4 separate regions of the Homo sapiens genome follow, and all the other regions are reported to be linked to region 4. Evidence: microRNA targets listed by miRTarBase, many of them from high-throughput screens and not tested one by one. Region 4 holds a microRNA gene; each other region holds the end of a gene's coding sequence. Distances are from middle to middle.
Evidence for each region. Region 4 holds the annotated microRNA hsa-miR-4439 (GUGACUGAUACCUUGGAGGCAU, at 1,128-1,149, shown strand). A microRNA usually pairs through its seed, bases 2 to 8, with sites in the 3' UTR of a target mRNA and lowers its output. Matches are read on the target gene's strand: a 7mer-m8 pairs with bases 2 to 8, a 7mer-A1 pairs with bases 2 to 7 and ends in A, and an 8mer does both.

Region 1: miRTarBase lists HYCC2 as a target of hsa-miR-4439. Seed matches in the 3' UTR shown: 7mer-m8 at 1,609-1,615 and 7mer-m8 at 2,805-2,811.
Region 2: the mRNA of FBXL4 is a reported target of hsa-miR-4439. Seed matches in the 3' UTR shown: 7mer-m8 at 3,566-3,572.
Region 3: the mRNA of CHCHD3 is a reported target of hsa-miR-4439. Seed matches in the 3' UTR shown: 7mer-m8 at 3,654-3,660.

The regions. Positions count from the first base shown.
Region 1 is chr2:200,977,585-200,981,803 of GRCh38, reverse strand. HYCC2 (hyccin PI4KA lipid kinase complex subunit 2) reads left to right here. Exons shown (of 13, transcript NM_001321623.1): 13 at 1-4,219. The coding sequence ends at 534. All of the region lies in intron 1 of LOC105373835 (a long non-coding RNA gene), which reads right to left. Among named protein-coding and RNA genes, the nearest start is that of ORC2, 16 kb to the right of the region's middle.
Region 2 is chr6:98,870,765-98,874,991 of GRCh38, reverse strand. FBXL4 (F-box and leucine rich repeat protein 4) reads left to right here. Exons shown (of 10, transcript NM_001278716.2): 10 at 551-4,227. The coding sequence ends at 714. Among named protein-coding and RNA genes, the nearest start is that of POU3F2, 38 kb to the right of the region's middle.
Region 3 is chr7:132,781,778-132,786,004 of GRCh38, forward strand. CHCHD3 (coiled-coil-helix-coiled-coil-helix domain containing 3) reads right to left here. Exons shown (of 8, transcript NM_017812.4): 8 at 3,093-3,883. The coding sequence ends at 3,860. Among named protein-coding and RNA genes, the nearest start is that of FLJ40288, 140 kb to the left of the region's middle.
Region 4 is chr2:225,007,665-225,011,664 of GRCh38, reverse strand. MIR4439 (microRNA 4439) reads left to right here and starts at 1,125; the gene lies at 1,125-1,204. All of the region lies in intron 1 of DOCK10 (dedicator of cytokinesis 10), which reads left to right.

The DNA of each region.
Region 1 (4,219 bases), 24 Mb from region 4:
GGGGCTTCCCTCAGCAGTCAGCCAATTGGGACCAAACCATCCTCCTCTTCTCAGAGGGGAAGCTTAAGGAAAGTAGCAACTGGGCGTTCAGCCAAGGATAAAGAAACAGCCTCTGCCATCAAATCCAGTGAGAGCCCTCGAGATTCAGTAGTTCGCAAGCAGTATGTACAGCAACCAACTGATCTTAGTGTAGATTCAGTTGAGCTGACACCAATGAAGAAACACCTGAGCCTGCCTGCTGGCCAGGTGGTGCCAAAAATCAATAGCTTAAGTCTAATCCGGACAGCCAGTGCTTCCTCAAGTAAATCATTTGACTATGTAAATGGCAGTCAAGCAAGTACCAGCATTGGGGTTGGCACTGAGGGAGGTACTAATTTAGCAGCCAACAATGCTAATCGATACTCAACTGTCAGTCTGCAGGAAGACCGGCTAGGTCAAGCTGGCGAAGGTAAAGAGCTCCTCAGCCCAGGAGCCCCCTTGACCAAGCAGTCTCGATCCCCAAGTTTCAATATGCAGCTAATATCCCAGGTGTAGTTTTGACATCCTCCCTCATCTTTCTGCTTACCTTTTAAACTGAACATTTCATTGTGCAAGAAGACACTTCATCCCACATTGTGAAAATATTGGTCACTGTTATCAGATTTCATTTAGTTTAGGTATCTTCATACTGTATTTTGTATCAAAACAGCAATAAGGTTTTCTTTATCCCTCTTTCCTACATCTTCTCTTCACCTATCCCTTGTAAATGTGTTTGTGAAGCAGTATAAAATGGTTGCCTTTTCCATGCCTTCCTTTCTCCTTGGGTGATGTGCAATCCATCGTAGGCTGATCGGTCCCATTTCAACACTGTGAGACTGAGGGTACATTAGAGGAAATGGTGTATATGATCCCTATGAAACGATTCTTTGGCTTTTGTTTAAAAACAAAACGGGTTTGTTCTCATAATCTATAGAACTATGAAGATTACTGGATCATATTTTTTTCTCTTAACCAGGAGTGCCTCAGAGATTCTGCTATGACTTTGGACTTCTCTGAGTCTGTGCAATCATTTTCTGGAGAAGCATGGGGAAAGGTGGTAGACTGCTGCACTTTTTCATTAAAATGAGGGTAGCTCTTTCTCCACCCCCCCATCTCCTTTATCCCGAAGACATAAATGTTCAATTACGGAGGCATTTAAATCAAGTTGTGACCACCTCCATTGGAGGGCAGGACTCTTGATTGTGTAATTGATAATGCACTTTCTCAATGGCTGTATAGTCATTATTAACGTGTCTTCCCTCTTCCCCACAAGGACATATAAGGTCATTTCTGTCCTTCAAGTTTGGCCAACTAACAAATCAGAATCTGAGGGGCATGTTCTATTTCCCAGGAATGATTGACACTTTGGTGCTGGGGTTTTGTGGGGGCGGGGGGTAGTTTTTGTTTAGCTTTTGTGGAGATTGTGTGTGTGAGAGGAGATTTGATTTTTTTTTCTTCTTTTCCTTTGTGAGCTGATGGCTGAAGTGTAACAGTACATCTTCAGGTAAAGAGAGGGATTTCTCAATCTACTTTCTGTTATGTCAGACTATAAGAGAAACCCTTTCAGCTGCTTTCTAGATGTACCTAAATTCAGTCAGACATTTTGGATTAAGAAACCTAAAGTCCTGATACATTACATACTCCAAGGAAATATATCAGGGACAGACAATTGGCTGAAACACTGATACTTCAATGTGACACATTTTTATAGAACATTTCTACCAGGGGGTACTGACCTTGATTTCTCCTACAAGGACCACACTGCCTTTGTGTTTAATGTAATGCAATTTGTGTACCTTCTAATCATATATCTGCAGTTCCTCATTTTTATAAAACTTTGATATCATGCCAGTAAGCTAGATGTTGAATGTATGTAAGTAGCATTTGGTAACTGCTAAGAGGTTACAAAAACATTATTGGTAAAAAAAATTTCCTTAGTTCTGATCTGGTTGGATAAGATTTTATCATAACTTTTCTGGGTCTCAGGCTCTGATGTTTGAAAAAGAAGGGAATATATTGGGTTTTAAAAAAGTGTATTGTGACTTAAACTGTTATAAGTTATCCTTCCACAGAATACATCAGAGCTATCAGTGCTTTGTACATTTAGATGTTTTTACTTGATTATTGTTTAAGAAAAATATACTGAATTTATAGAAAGCAAGTATTCTCCTAATTAGCAAAAGTTAAAATTTTATCTCTACCATTAAAATTACAATAGATTTTGATAAATAACCAGAAAAAACGCCTTTTTTTTTTTCACACCTAGCAATCCTCCCGTTTTTATTGTAAGGACTTTCTTTTTTCCCTAAGAGACTTTCTGTTAGACTCTTTATATATGAGATGCTTGTTTAAATATGGTGGTCTGTAACATTTTTCCAGCTCATGTGAAAATGGAAAACTAGAACCTGAACTAGTATCTACAACATTGCCAAAGTCCAGGGTAAAGCTAAAAGTTGATAAGTAGACAATTTATTGTTTTGTGTGTGTCTGTGTGTGTGTGTGTGTGTGTGTGTGTGTGTGTATGGTGTGTATATGTATATATCACAAAGTTGTATTTTAAATATTTTAAATACCCTTTCTTTTAATTTAAGGGATGTCAAATAAATGAAAGGAGTTTAAAAATAGCCAAAATAAATGAGCTATAAAGGCCCATAACATACTAAAACAGGCAGTTTCAGGTATGTAAGGAAAGGAACATTATACTTACCTAGAAAGTGAGATCTAAAAAAAAATTAAAAATAAATAAAAAATAAAAAAGAAAGTGAGATCTTGGCTATGGCTGGAGGTCAGTCACTTTATGGCATAAATTATTTGGGAGGTAAAAAGACTGTTTTCAATTCAAATTGTGCATTTATTGGCATCTAAATCTAGCATGATTTTGGTTAGAGCACAAAAGAAATACCACATAATACCAAATCACAGCAAATGTTAGAATTAATACAACAAAATTTTCCTTTGGCTAGAAATCTTATGTTATACCTGAAAAATTGGTTTTAAAAAATGTTCATCTTGGCCGGGCACGGTGGCTCACGCCTGTAATCCCAACACTCTGGGAGGCTGAGGTGGGTGAATCATGAGGTCAGGAGTTCGAGACCAGCCTGGCCAACATGGTGAAACCCTGTCTCTACTAAAAATACAAAAAATTAGCTGGGCGTGGTGGCAGGCGCCTGTAATCCCAGCTACTCGGGAGGCTGAGGCAGGAGAATCTCTTGAACCTGGGAGGTGGAGGTTGCAGTGAGCCAAGAATGCACTACTGTACTCCAGCCTAGGCAACAGTGCAAGACTCCATCTCTGAAAAAAAAAAAAAAAAAAAAAAAAAAAGTTCATCTTAGAGGATTTTATTTATCTGTATGTATATACATATATGTTTGTATGTATACATACCCACATTAACATTTTATGACCCTGTAACATTTGTTTTCTATTCTTTTAGGTGATGTGAATTGACCTCAGTGAAGAAACATTTCATTTAGTCTAAGCCTTGCATTCAGGGTCTTACAACAGATTTCTTGTGCAAGAATTATTATTAGTTAAAATGGAAGGTGTTAGTTTAACAAACTGAGAGTCAAATTTTCTAAGTTTTTAAATATGCATTTTAACATGCATTATTTTTGGCATTTAATTTAAAATAGTTTTGTTTCATGTATACAACAGCTGTTACAGATATATGCCAGCAATATTCATACTTTTTTAACAAGCTTTTGTTATATATTTTCTAATCTCCATAAAAGTCTAATCATCTATGAAAAAGATATTTAGGGAGAAAATACTTGTTTTCTGTAATAAAACAATTAGGTTGGTGCCATGTATGCCAAGTTGGATAAAAGAATACAAAGAAACAGCTGAAGGTTTTGGGAGCTCGCTCTGACATTAATTACTAGAAAGCAAACTAAAATGCAAAGTGAATAGTTAACTCAGAAGATTTGAATTTTTTGAAATAGGGTCTCACTCTGTCCTCTAGGCTAGAGTGCAGTGGCACTATCACGGCTCACTGCAGCCTCAACCTCCCTGGGCTCAGGTGATCTTCCCACCTCAGCCTCTGGAGTAGCTGGAACTCCAGGCATGCACCACCACACCTGGCTAATTTTTGTATTTTTAGTAGAGACGAGGTTTTGCCATGTTGCCCAGGCTGGTCTCGAACTCCTGGGCTTAAGAGATCCACCCACCTGGCCTCCCAGAAGTGCTAGGATTACAGACATAA
Region 2 (4,227 bases), not on the chromosome of region 4:
GCGTTTAGGAATAGTTCTACCCCAGGCAGATCTATTGAAAATCTTTTCCAGCTCTGGGATTTCTTGAATCCTTGCTGCATTCATCAGAAAGGAACCCTGTGTAATTTTGTTGCTTCTTACTTTTAGCCAGGGGTGCTAGCAGTGTCACAGTAGTTATCATTGTCCACACAATTGATACTTTGTGAAGTCATATCGCACTTGCACATTTTACATCAAATGCATGGTGAAAACCATTTTGAACTGGGGTGACAGAAATAGGAAAGTCTGGAGGAGCTGATTTGAAGGGGTAGGAGGTAGGAATGAAGATAGTGGGTAGGATATTGGCAAGATTCAGGTCCTAGATGCTAAATTGGCTGGAAAATTCAACTTTTACTTTTTTAACAGAACCATTTCAATATGAAGTCATGTTTGAAAAAATGATTTTAATTTGTAAAGGGTTATTTTAAGTTCATTACAAACAATAAATCATGGATGGATTCATTGTTAGCACATTATATAAATGTTATACTTAAGGTGTTTTGTTTTGTTTTGTTTTGTTTCCCTTAAATAGGAACAAGAATGGTAAGTCCGGCATCCTTAAGAAAACTCCTGGAATCTTGTAAAGATCTTTCTTTACTTGATGTGTCCTTCTGTTCGCAGATTGATAACAGAGCTGTGCTAGAACTGAATGCAAGCTTTCCAAAAGTGTTCATAAAAAAGAGCTTTACTCAGTGACTTAATATATGTTCTGTATTAAAATTAATGTGCTTTGTTGGGGTTTAATTTTGGGATTGGTTTTGGGTTTTGTTTTTAGTTGTTTTAATGGTAAGAATTAAGACATTTGTAGATTTTAAAGAAAAATATGAAATTGTCCATTAAATCAAGTAAAAATGTGCACAAATGTTTTCATAAAATACTGCAAGCACTTCTCTTCAAGAATATGAGTGGATATTATTTTTACCTTATGTTAATCAGTGATATGCTTTAGTCAATAATATGATTGATAAAAGAATAACATGGAATCATGCTAACTTATTTTCAAAGGAACACTGAGCAATAAAGTATCGTGGCATTTATGCAAAAAAAAAAGTTAATTTTTTACACCTTCATGTAAGGATGTCTTATTAAGCCTGTGACCTGGCAAGTGTTTTGTTTGGTATGTACAAAATGGTCAGAGCTAGTTGGAGAATGAGACATGCTTTTCCAGCTGTTTGGTTATTTCTCTGGATTAACTGTTCAACTGGAAAATTTTTAGTTTTTCTAGCCAGGTGTGGTGGCACACACTTGTAGTCCTAGCGACACAGGAGGTGGAGGCAGGAGGATTACTTGAGATGGGATTTTGAGACTCTAGTGTACTTATGATTGCACCTGTGAGCAGCCACTGCACTCCAACCTGGGCAATATAGCAAGTCCCTTTCTCTTAAAAAAAATTGTAGTGTTTCCACTTTTCTTCTGATATTTTTGTCTATTTCACTACTGGATAATGCCAATATAAAAATTTGGGTATAATCAAGAATAAGAGGTAAACTACTAAATAAAAAAAGCTTTCCAACTGTTAGAAGCAGATGCCTTAACATTTTGTGAAAGGTAAAGTTTTGAGGTTTCTGAATTATATAAAAAAACATAAATGTGGAGATATATATTATATATACACATTATATATACATATTATAGATAATATATATCCACATTTATGATTTTTAATATATACATGTATATATTATATATTATATAATTATATATTACATTTATATTATATGTAATGTACATGTATATATTATATACATATATATAATTATATATATTATATAGAGAGAGATATATATCTTGCTAGGGTGTGTGGATGCTGGAATATAACGATTTTGCACTTAACAGGACAATGAATTTTGTTATACTACAGTTAATATTAGTTTTGTGTTCAAAACAGCTGTGCCTTTTCATGCCACAAAATATTTTCTGTCTACTTTCTGAGTAGCAGAATTAATTCATTTTTTTAACAAAACGATGTATGTCAAGTGTTCAGTAGTCACATGAGGAGAATGCTTCCTTTGTGCCTGGCACTGTTTCTTGTGCTTTGCATTGACTAATTCAATTCTCACAACAACCCTGTAAGATAAATGCCATTACTTACCCCCATTTACAGATGAGGAAACTGAGGCAAAGAAAGATTGAAGAATTTATTTATGATCATACAGCTGCTAGTGGCAGAGCCAACATATAAACCCAGGCCATCTGGCTTCTGAAGCATTGCATTAAACCTGTGCTTTTAGGTGTTCAGGGTAGCTTCTGGCTCTAGGGCAGAGGTCAGGAAACTTTTTCTATAAAGGGCCAGATAGTAAATATTTTAGGCTTTGTGGGCTAAGAGGTAAAACTGAGATTGTTATGTAGATACTTAAATAACTAGAGAGAAATAAAATTTGCACGAAAATTTTATTGACAAAATTCAAAACAATAATTTAGAACAATTTTTTTTGTAATACGGGTTTACTAATGAAAAGAATTAAATATTTACAGGGAGGATCAAAGTTAATGTTTCGTGTCATTAAAGTTGATTGTAAGTACTCATTTGTTAATGCTGATCTGTAATAAGATTTTATGTATTTTACTTCTGAAAATTCCTTGCAGATAGGTATTGTCAAATACTTACATTAATCCATGAGAATATGATTTTTGTTGAGCATATTCATCACTTGAAAGGTTACTTCTTCTCTGGATATTTTCCTTTTAGCATGTTATTACATTGCAGCTTAATCACTTCCAATTGAAGACTAGGCAGAAGCTCCTCAATTGCACTGTTAAATTGATTTTGAAAAATGGAAATTTCCTTTACATTTGCAAACTCCAAAAAATACTGCAGGCACTATGGTGTGAGCTACAAATTTGTGTGAGAGTGGAGATCTCGCTTCTTTGTCTTACCTTTTGATAGCACAGGAAATGTGTAAAGCAGCTTGTTGTTACTTGTAATTCAAACAATGTTGTCATCAAAATGACTTATGTTTTGCTTGTAAACACGTTTTGCCTTGTAATTTTGGCTTGAATTCATTTCAAAATTTTATTAAGTCTTGAGCAAAAGCTAAATTCCAAAGCCATTCAGTGTTCCATAATAGTGATTGAGGACATGTCTTCTTTTTCAGAAAAATGTCAATATCAGCCCTGAACGCAAAAGCTCACAATAGAACTAACACTATTATGCCAATGTGGTTGGGCAAATCAGCATATTCATCTTCTGTATCTGACAAAAGATAACTGAACCATTGATGTTTAATCTATCAGAAACTATGAGAGCAAATGAAGTTCACCATTGCTACCAGTAGTTCAGTAATACAAAATTGAATCAAATATATCCCACAAAGTACCTGCTGATGAATAATACAGTAAATAACCATAGATTTTAAATACCTTCTTACCTTTTCACAGGCTTTATAAATTTGACAAACGTAATCATTTTGCTTCACACATTTTTAACACCACCAGTTGTAACACATCTTAGCAGATTCTACTTCAGGTTGCATGAAATTTGTGTTTTCTTCTTATAAAATATTCATGCTTGTAATTGTGCCACACAGATAATTCATAGAGACTAATTTCAGTCACTTCAACGTTGGCATTGACTTATCAAATAAGCAATAACTAGGCAGTGTCAGTAACATCTGTTGACTCATCAAGAGCCAAGGAAAACCACTCAGGGTCATTTGCCTTGTTTTTTATTGACTGTTGATGTTGTTCCCAGTGTTCTCAATTCTTTAAGCAACCATTCTTGCCAAAAGGCTAATTTAATAGTCTTAAGTTTACTTTGGACACAGTCCTTCAGCCGATAGAATCAAACACAATTTAGTTATCGTTAGTAAAATGTTTTCCTTGCTTGGTTAACATCTGAGTCACTTTGGCTGCAACTTTATTTTCATTTTTGAGTTTGTTTTTTTTTTTTTTTGAGACTGAGTCTCATTCTTTTGCCCAGGCTGGAGTGCAGTGGCACAATCTCAGTTCACTGCAACCTCCACCCTGCAGGTTCAAGCGAGTCTCCTGCCTCAGCCTCCCAAGTAGCTGAGATTACAGGCACATGCCACCACACCTAACTAATTTTTATGTTTTTAGTAGAAATGGGGTTTTACCATGTTGTCCAGGCTGGTCTTGAACTCCTGACCTCAAGTGATCCACCCACTTCAGCCTCCCAAAATGCTTGGATTACAGGCATGAACCACTGCATCTGACCTCCCTATAGTATTCTTTAAGAACAGCTATAATGAC
Region 3 (4,227 bases), not on the chromosome of region 4:
AGGCCTCGGAACACCCGCACCACAGTCCCCTATTCTGGGGGTGGTTTGGACCGTGGGTGTCATCAGCACAAATGGCCTACGTGTCCTAAGGTGACTTCCTAGACTAGATGCAGCCTGCCCACGGAGTAAATCCCTCAGGGCACTGATGGAAAACAAAAACCTAATGGAGACCATAAGCTGTAGGAAAAGTACCATCAAGGGCACAGAGAAAGAAATACAAATATAGTTTTCATTTAGAAAATTTACCCAGTTTATAAGAACTGTAAGAATAAGAAATTACTAAATGAGAGGAAGTACTAAATATAGGACTAAAAGATTTAGGAGGCCGGGGAAGAAAAGAAGGGAAGTATCAAAAAACACAAATCATAATGGAAAGGACCCCGAACAGGCCACTGTACAGTGAGAGACCAGAGGGAGGTGACTTGTCCCCACTGACAAATGGAGCAGAGCTGGATCAAGAGCCCAGGACTCTGCACTCAGGAGGATGCACTGTGCACTCCGTTGTCACTGCTTCTCTGGAGGGAGGCTGGAGAGACTGAGAAAAGTGTAAACACACAGAGGAGGTTAGAGGAGGGAATGAAGATGGCAGAGAAGAGAGGAGGAAGCAGAGACTGGGAAAACTTGGGAGAGGAAGACGGGAGGAGAGCAGTGAGATAACAATGAGTATCAACGCATTCATTCACAACATTAGCCTTTCAAGAGGATTAATTCTAAACAGACTATTTTCCTAACTCACTTGGTTTGAATCACAGCAAGTTACTGCTGCCCTTTCAATTGTTCAACTGCTAATTCTTTAAAAAAATTATTTCACGAATACGTTGTAACATTATTAACCAGTCAGCATGTTGTACAACAGATCTCTTGAACTATTCCTCCTAATCTAACTGAGATTTTGTTGCTTTAATTCTTAAATCTCAAAAGGGTCATCTCCTACAGCTCACTGCAATGTGGGTTTCTGGCAAAAGCAATTATACCTGCAGGCTGGAAGACAGCAAGTGAAGAACCACACATTCTCCATTTCTCAGCCCGAGAAGTCGAGGACATGTGACTACCTGGTCAGTTCTAAGCTAAAAACTGTTGTAGGGAGTCTTGTGGGTTGACCAACTGGCCACAGGCATCTGGCTTTTAGCAGTCTACATTTGCTACTAATCATGATTAGTCAATACTTTTCTAAACTAGTGCATGTTGGCAAGTTTACTGTAATGTTATTGACTTCTCAAAGAGGACTTCGTGCTGATTCAACCCAGCTGTGTTCTATAAGTTCCTCAAACATTTGTTTAGTGTGATATCCTCTGATCAGCTTTCAAGACACTTTATTCTTCTTGGCTTCATGAGCTAAGCTACTGTGGCTGAAGGTGCATTCTACTTAAGTGAGAAACTGATTGGAATGTACCACTCCACAGCCTCATATAAATCACAACACTCTTCCCAAGCAGTGGTCTGGAAAGCTACTGTGACCTGGCAGAGCTGTGATGCCATCAGCAGGGAGCTCTCCAAGGACGGAGAGAAAGGCATCATTTCATCCTTTTACTTCCCCAAAGCGCTGGCTTTTGTCTTGCACCTACCATGCTTATCAGAATGATAAATTAATAAGCAATGCTGGGAGGAGCGGCCTGTCGAACCAACCCCCCTTCCCCTGGATTTCGCCCACTTTAGACGCCTGACTCTACAGCGCTGCATTTGCCTGCCAGAGGCAAGACTGGCAGCCTGGGATGTGCCAAGTGCTTGGCTCTCAATTGCAAAACAAAACAGTATAGGAGGGAATTTGTGAGTTAGCTGATTTGCAAACACTAGAGCAAGTCGCCATGTAAACATTTGTTTTTGTGTCTCTCAGGTTTTTCCATTTCTCTCAGGCAGCTACCTGGATGCCACCCTGACAGCATCAAAATGTGCTGCTCCTCAAGTTACCAGTGAATCCTTATTCACACTGAAATAAACTCAGCTTCTTTCAGACCATTAAAAAAGAAACCTGAAAGCCCCCCACAAAACAAAACAAAACAAAAAAACCCAAACAAAAAAAACTTCATGAAGCAGTCATCACAGAGGATATCAGTAATTATGGCAGGAGAGCCTCTAGTGTTGCTCAGAATCAACGTTAGGCCAGCAGGTGTGTCCCCAAGTGTCTATGAACATGTCACTCGGAGGGAGCCATCGCCTGGGGAACCTGAATGAATAAGCAGCTGCAGTTACACTCACATGCGTTGGCTGAGACTGTTCCATCACAAGTACATCCAACTTTAAATAAAAGGTACTTGGGCATGTGAATACGTTCTATGCCCCCAACGCCAAATGCCAGTTTACTGAATCATCACACAAGCCAGCATTTACTGGGTCTGACCAAACGTATGCGGTGAGTCAGCATTTGGACTCTTCACTGTAAGCCTAAAAATTAGTTCTTCCATTTGCCCCCTTTTTGCAGTTGAAGAAGTATTGGTTGACTTGGTTGAATTCCACAGCAGAGCCAGAATTTGTACACAGATTAAGAATACAGAACCTGTATTTTGCTAAATTCACTTGCTTCGTAATAAAATAAAAATCCTACATGACAAAAGACACTTAAAGGATATCACAGAGCACTGGTACTCCTATGTCTGAAAAGAACCTTCTCATTTAGCTTCAGTGTGACTACTTATTTCCAACTCACTCAACTCCAGGGTTGAAGCACCAATCATGGTTAAAAAAAAAAAAAAAAAAAAGGGAGAGTTATAATCAGGAAGTTTTGAAAAATTGGAAAGAGGAAAAAAAAACCTAATGGTTGAATTATTTTCTTTAAACGTTTTTTAGTATTGCAGGGTCAGAAGGTCCTAACCAAGGTTATCTAATCTAGTTCTTGCCCCAGGCAGGATGACTTAAGTCATCCCAAAGAAAGGAAAGTTCACACAATTTGTAAAGATCTTCCCGAATTCTACCTACCTGATAGGCAAGTTATAAGCATCACTTGCCTGTCGGAGGCTCCACGAAATGCTCTGGAGCCTTTGAGAGGAAAGGTACAGCACAAATGCAAATTATTAACAATATAAATCAGCTCAATTCCCGTAAGCATAGACATCTAACCCAGCCAAAGGAATGTGTGAGGAGCTACAATGCCAGTCTTTGTCAGAAAATATATTTATTATTGATAGTGAGTGAAGTAAAGATGTGAGTATTCACTATAGAGGTTTTATCAGCCAAGGTTGCCTTCATATTGATAAAAATACCTTATCTCACTTGTAATCATAAACATTATTCCAGTAGAAGAGGTACATTTTCTCTCCTTTTTGTCTTCTTGCCTGTATAATCACCATAATAAGTTATAATGAAATAGCTCTTACATAATCAAAGGAGAAAAGAAAGACAAAACCAACATGCCACAGCCTAGACAATTCCATCCAGCACTGCTGCCTCCAGATCTGTTTTCTGGCTCTCTCCACCCAGCACTGCTGCCCTCGGATCTATGTTTTCTGGCTCTCTCCTCGCCCCACTCCAATTAATTTAGCCCCCAACCCCATCCTACTTTGTTAGGGTGGAGGTTCACCAAATGATGGGGCTTGTTCAGAAGAGAAACATTTTATGGTCAGTGCAAGTTGAATAGAAAGTACCAAAAGGTGGAGAGGGCTGCCCTTCTCTTTTAATCATCATAAGAGGGTTTACTAATACTCAAGAGTGTCCTTTAATGACTGATCCCTGATCAAGGCTTTGGCCCTTCAAACTGCTGCTGTTCAAAACGTGAAATGATTCTGCTGAATCCATTCTTGATGTCTCTCTTTAGTGGTCTTCTCATTAGTGGTCTTCTCTTCAAATGGGTTGTTTTCTCACTAGGAAAAAAAATGTTCCATCTCTGGAATTAACGTTGATGGTGTTTTGCTCATTCTGAAAGTTTTTATCCTCCCTTCTCAAGCATGCTCTGCAAGAAAAACAGAAAGAGTAAGTTTTACCACCGGGAGAGGACAAAAAATAAATGGCACTAACTATTTAGTATGATTTGTGTTGCTTTTCAAATATCTAATTTTAAAAACACAGAAAACAAGGCATATGCTTCCTGTTCTCAAAATATTGCTCCTTTAATCAACACCATTGCTTTATCAATATGATCTTTAAATGACCCCTCTCACCACCACATGGGTTGAAAACCCCAACAAGGCCGGGCGCAGTAGCTCACGCCTGTAATCCTAGCACTTTGGGAGGCCAAAGTGGGCAGATCACTTGAGCCCAGAAGCTTGAAATCAGCCTGGGCAACACAATGAAACC
Region 4 (4,000 bases):
GACTTGGTTGATTTTCTTTGCTAAAGTTCAGAGTCTTTACTGTTTAAAAATCAGGATTAAATAGATGCATTTCAGTTTCGAAGGTATTATTTGCAGTAAAACTGCCAACATAAACATTTTATAAGAAAGCCATGTATGTCCTGAAGTCATAACTGCAGGCCTCTCTTTACCTTCACATTGGCTGGTGGCATTGATGTCAATATTCAACACTCTAAGAGTTAATTTAATTTGAATTTCATTTCTTCTTTAAAGTAACTTGATCTTGCAACCTCTTTTCTCTCTGGCTATGGAAAGAGTCACTTTAGGAAGCTGAAACTTCCAGCATGAATACTTCTAGCAGGTTTATTTGTGTGGCAAATATGTGCTTCTATCTCATTTTTTCTTTGTACCTGTGACTTATCTACCTACCTGAAAAGCCGTAAGTCCTTTCTGGCAACTACTGCGACATTGCCTCTTTTTCCTTTTTGTAATCATCTTCATTGGCGTGAAATCTTCTTTGAACTGATCATTTGGCAACACTTGCTTGCTGTGAAAGAACTTTGACTATATACATATGCTATGATAGATATCATATCAATATTTTCCATCACTACTTTTGCTTTGTCAGAAAACTCATGACTTGTTGTGAGTCAGAATGTGTCACAGCCAAGCTGTCTTCCAAACCTTGAAATATTTTACTATATTTTCCCTTCGAAGTATTTGACTCATCAGCTGAGAAGATATCAGGCCTTTTACCTACGTTTGGTTTGATTTAGAACCATGAAGATGATGGGATCAGTATGTCCTTGCTGTGCCGTTTAGCTTCTTAGCTGACCCATTTGATAGAGGCTGAATGCTTCCTTGGAAAAGTTTTGCAGGATTTATCTTGTTTCTCATTCTGCATTAGTTGATGTCTGTCTTTGAAAAAAAATTTTGATTTGCTTTTCTGTATTTCTTTTTCAACTTTTAATCTATATTCCCAACTCTAATTCATTCTGTAATAATGTTAACCCCCAAAATTGTATGAACTGTCTTATTTGAATCAAAAGATGAAGTGCCTGAACTGATCTTACGTTCCCTTTCCCAGTGTCCCTTCCCTTTCTCAAAGTCTGCTCTTCTAAAAGAAACTGATGTCAGCTAGGGTACCAGTGACTGATACCTTGGAGGCATTTTATCTAAGATACACACAAAGCAAATGCCTCTAAGGTATCAGTTTACCAGGCCAGGAGACAGAATTTTATATTTTCCTCTAGGTTGTCTAGGGGACAATATAAGATTCTGTCCCCTGGCCTGGCAAATTAATTGCATTCACCTCCCCAGTTCTTCATACTTCTCTCTATCCAGGCCCTTTGGGGGTGCCCTCCCACACTGAGTTTAGGCTTCTTGTTAAAATTTGCTTTGGCCCATGAGACACTAATAAACTAAACACAGCAAGGCTTAAAAGGTTCTTGACTGCCTCTTCTTCCTCTCTTGATCCTCTGCCATTGCCATAGGAAAATGCCTGGCTTGGTTGCTGGCAGATGAGATTTAAGGAAAAGAGCTGAATCTACCTGGTTATTCTAGCCAAGGCCCCACACACCCTCAGAACTGCCTAGTGGACCTGCAGCTGACTGCAGATGCATGAGTAAAGCCCCAGCCAATGCCAGAAGAACTGCCCAGACAACCTTTAGGCTCCTTAGCCACATGAAAAAATGGCTGCATTTTTTTCTATGCCCCTGAGTGTTTGGGGCAGTTTGTTACTCAGTTAACGGTTAACCAGTACAACTCTTAAAGAAATCTAATCCCTCAACTATGCAGGAGGGCAACACAAAGACTCTTGTTAGTCTCTCTGATCACATCCACATCAGCCTGCATGACTTGACCATATCATTAAATAAAGAGTAGGACTCCAGCGTACTATTGAGTCAAAATGAACATCTATAAACAAGTCTTTCCAGTGGCCAGTTTCAGTTCATTGCTTTGGAGAGTTTTCTCTTTGTAAGCAAACTCTGAATACAGTTTTCATGTTTTTGTTGTTGTTTTCTTTTTTCTTTCTTTTTTTTTTTTTGCCTTAGGGCTTGCCTTTGTCATTGTTCCCTTCAACTGCATTTCTGCATTTCTTCTCTGCAGACGACATTCTGCTAACCTTGCCAAGAGCCACCCAGGTGAAATGAGATTTGTAGGGAGACACTCAGGGAGATTAACAGATCTTTTTGCATGAAGAATAATTGCAAAAGTAATCTCTTATTTGATTGAAGCTAATAAGTGGACATAGTGGATATTATGGTCTTCTTTTTTGAAGTCTTACTAATTTAGAAATTCGGCTGAGTATTTTAATGTTCAGAGAGCTTCCCTTCTTAAGGTTTTACTGTTATAGAACTTAATATCACCTATTTTTTAATATTTTGATTCAGTGATTGATTTTCTTGGTAGGTAGAATATTACATCTTAGCGAAAAATTAAATACTCTTCTGTAGTTGGAAACTTTTTGTGAAGACATAAAATTTTAACCACTTAAACCTAATCTGTGACCCCCTTACTTAGGCGTCGACCCTGGTTTTTCAAGCATCTCTCCCTAGAGGGCGGTATAGCCTCACTTCATGATGTGGTCTTTCCAATGTTGGCTGCTGGCCCCATATCACCTGAGGCTGAAGTCCTTTAGATTACAAGATTGGAATATTTTTAGTAAATCTATCACCAGTAGAGCCTTCATCTTAACATGATAAATGTACAACTCACTGGACGTATTTGGCTTGAGATTTATGGCAAATCAGACACAGCTTATGAGAGGTGGAAACGGTGCTTGTTTAACATAACTGTGGCTGTTTGTTCAGGTCAATCCTAGTCTATCTTTGTGTCGACACATAGTAACCTGTGGGATATTATGGGCAGATAGTGGAGCATTGGATAGAGTACTAAGGACGATTCAGTGGACCTGTGCTCTCATTTTGGATATGTCATTACAGGTAGTACTTGCCCCACTTGGACTTTGGTTTCCTTATTTGTAAGATGAGACAGCCAGTCTCAATATTTTTTTCACAATCCCAGCAACTCTGTGATTTATGGTCTTTGGTACATAACAGTAGTTCTGTACAGTTTGGTAGAGGAAGTGATACCAGTGCTCCCAACTGCCAATTCAAAGGAAATGTAGGTAGTTACCCAGTGATATTTTGGTTAGCCTACAGAAGATATTTTAAATTCTGAGGAAAAGAAAATGCCAGCTGATCACTGAAACCCATAAATGCTAAATAAATAGTTTTTGTGTATCTTCTTAAAACATGAATATTCTTACAAAGTCAGCATAAAGTGTTGATATAAGACTGCCTCAGAAGAAAAAGTGTCCACTACTCACAATCTAGCACCATGCATAACAAAGAGTCTTCACTCAAGAAATGTTTGTGAATTCTCGGCAGGGCACAGTGACCCATGCCTGTAGTCCTAGCTACTCTGGAGGTTGAGGAGAGAGGATCAGTTGAGCCCAGGAATTTGAGTCCACCCTGGGCAACATAGCAAGACCTCATCTCTAAAGAAATAAAAAGTTTATGAATGAATGACAAGAAGACTAATCCCATGTTTGGTACAGCTTTTACTTCTAAAATACTCTTCAATATACTGAGTCAGGATTGATGCTCATGAACTTCCAGCCATGGCTTTAACTCTACTCCTTTGGGTGACATTTGAGCATATTGGATCTGCTATGCGTGGAAAGTCACTTTACTTTTATTTGCCCCCACTCCATTGAAAAAAAAAAATTAGATGATAGCAGCATTTCTTAAAGAACAGAATGCATATCCCTGATCATGCTCACAATTAGGCGTAATTCTTTTTTACATGACCATTTTTAAGTTTTCAAAAACAATTGTCAAGCCTGTTGTAGTCTTATCTTTCCAAAGCTAACCATCATTCTTCCGGACTTTTTTGTGGATGTTTTTTAATGTCTTCATTGCTCTCCTTGCAATCGGTCCTGCTTGTCTGTATCCTTCCTAATCTGTCTCCAAGAATTAAACACAATATTTCAAGTTTCATCACTGCCATGAAAACC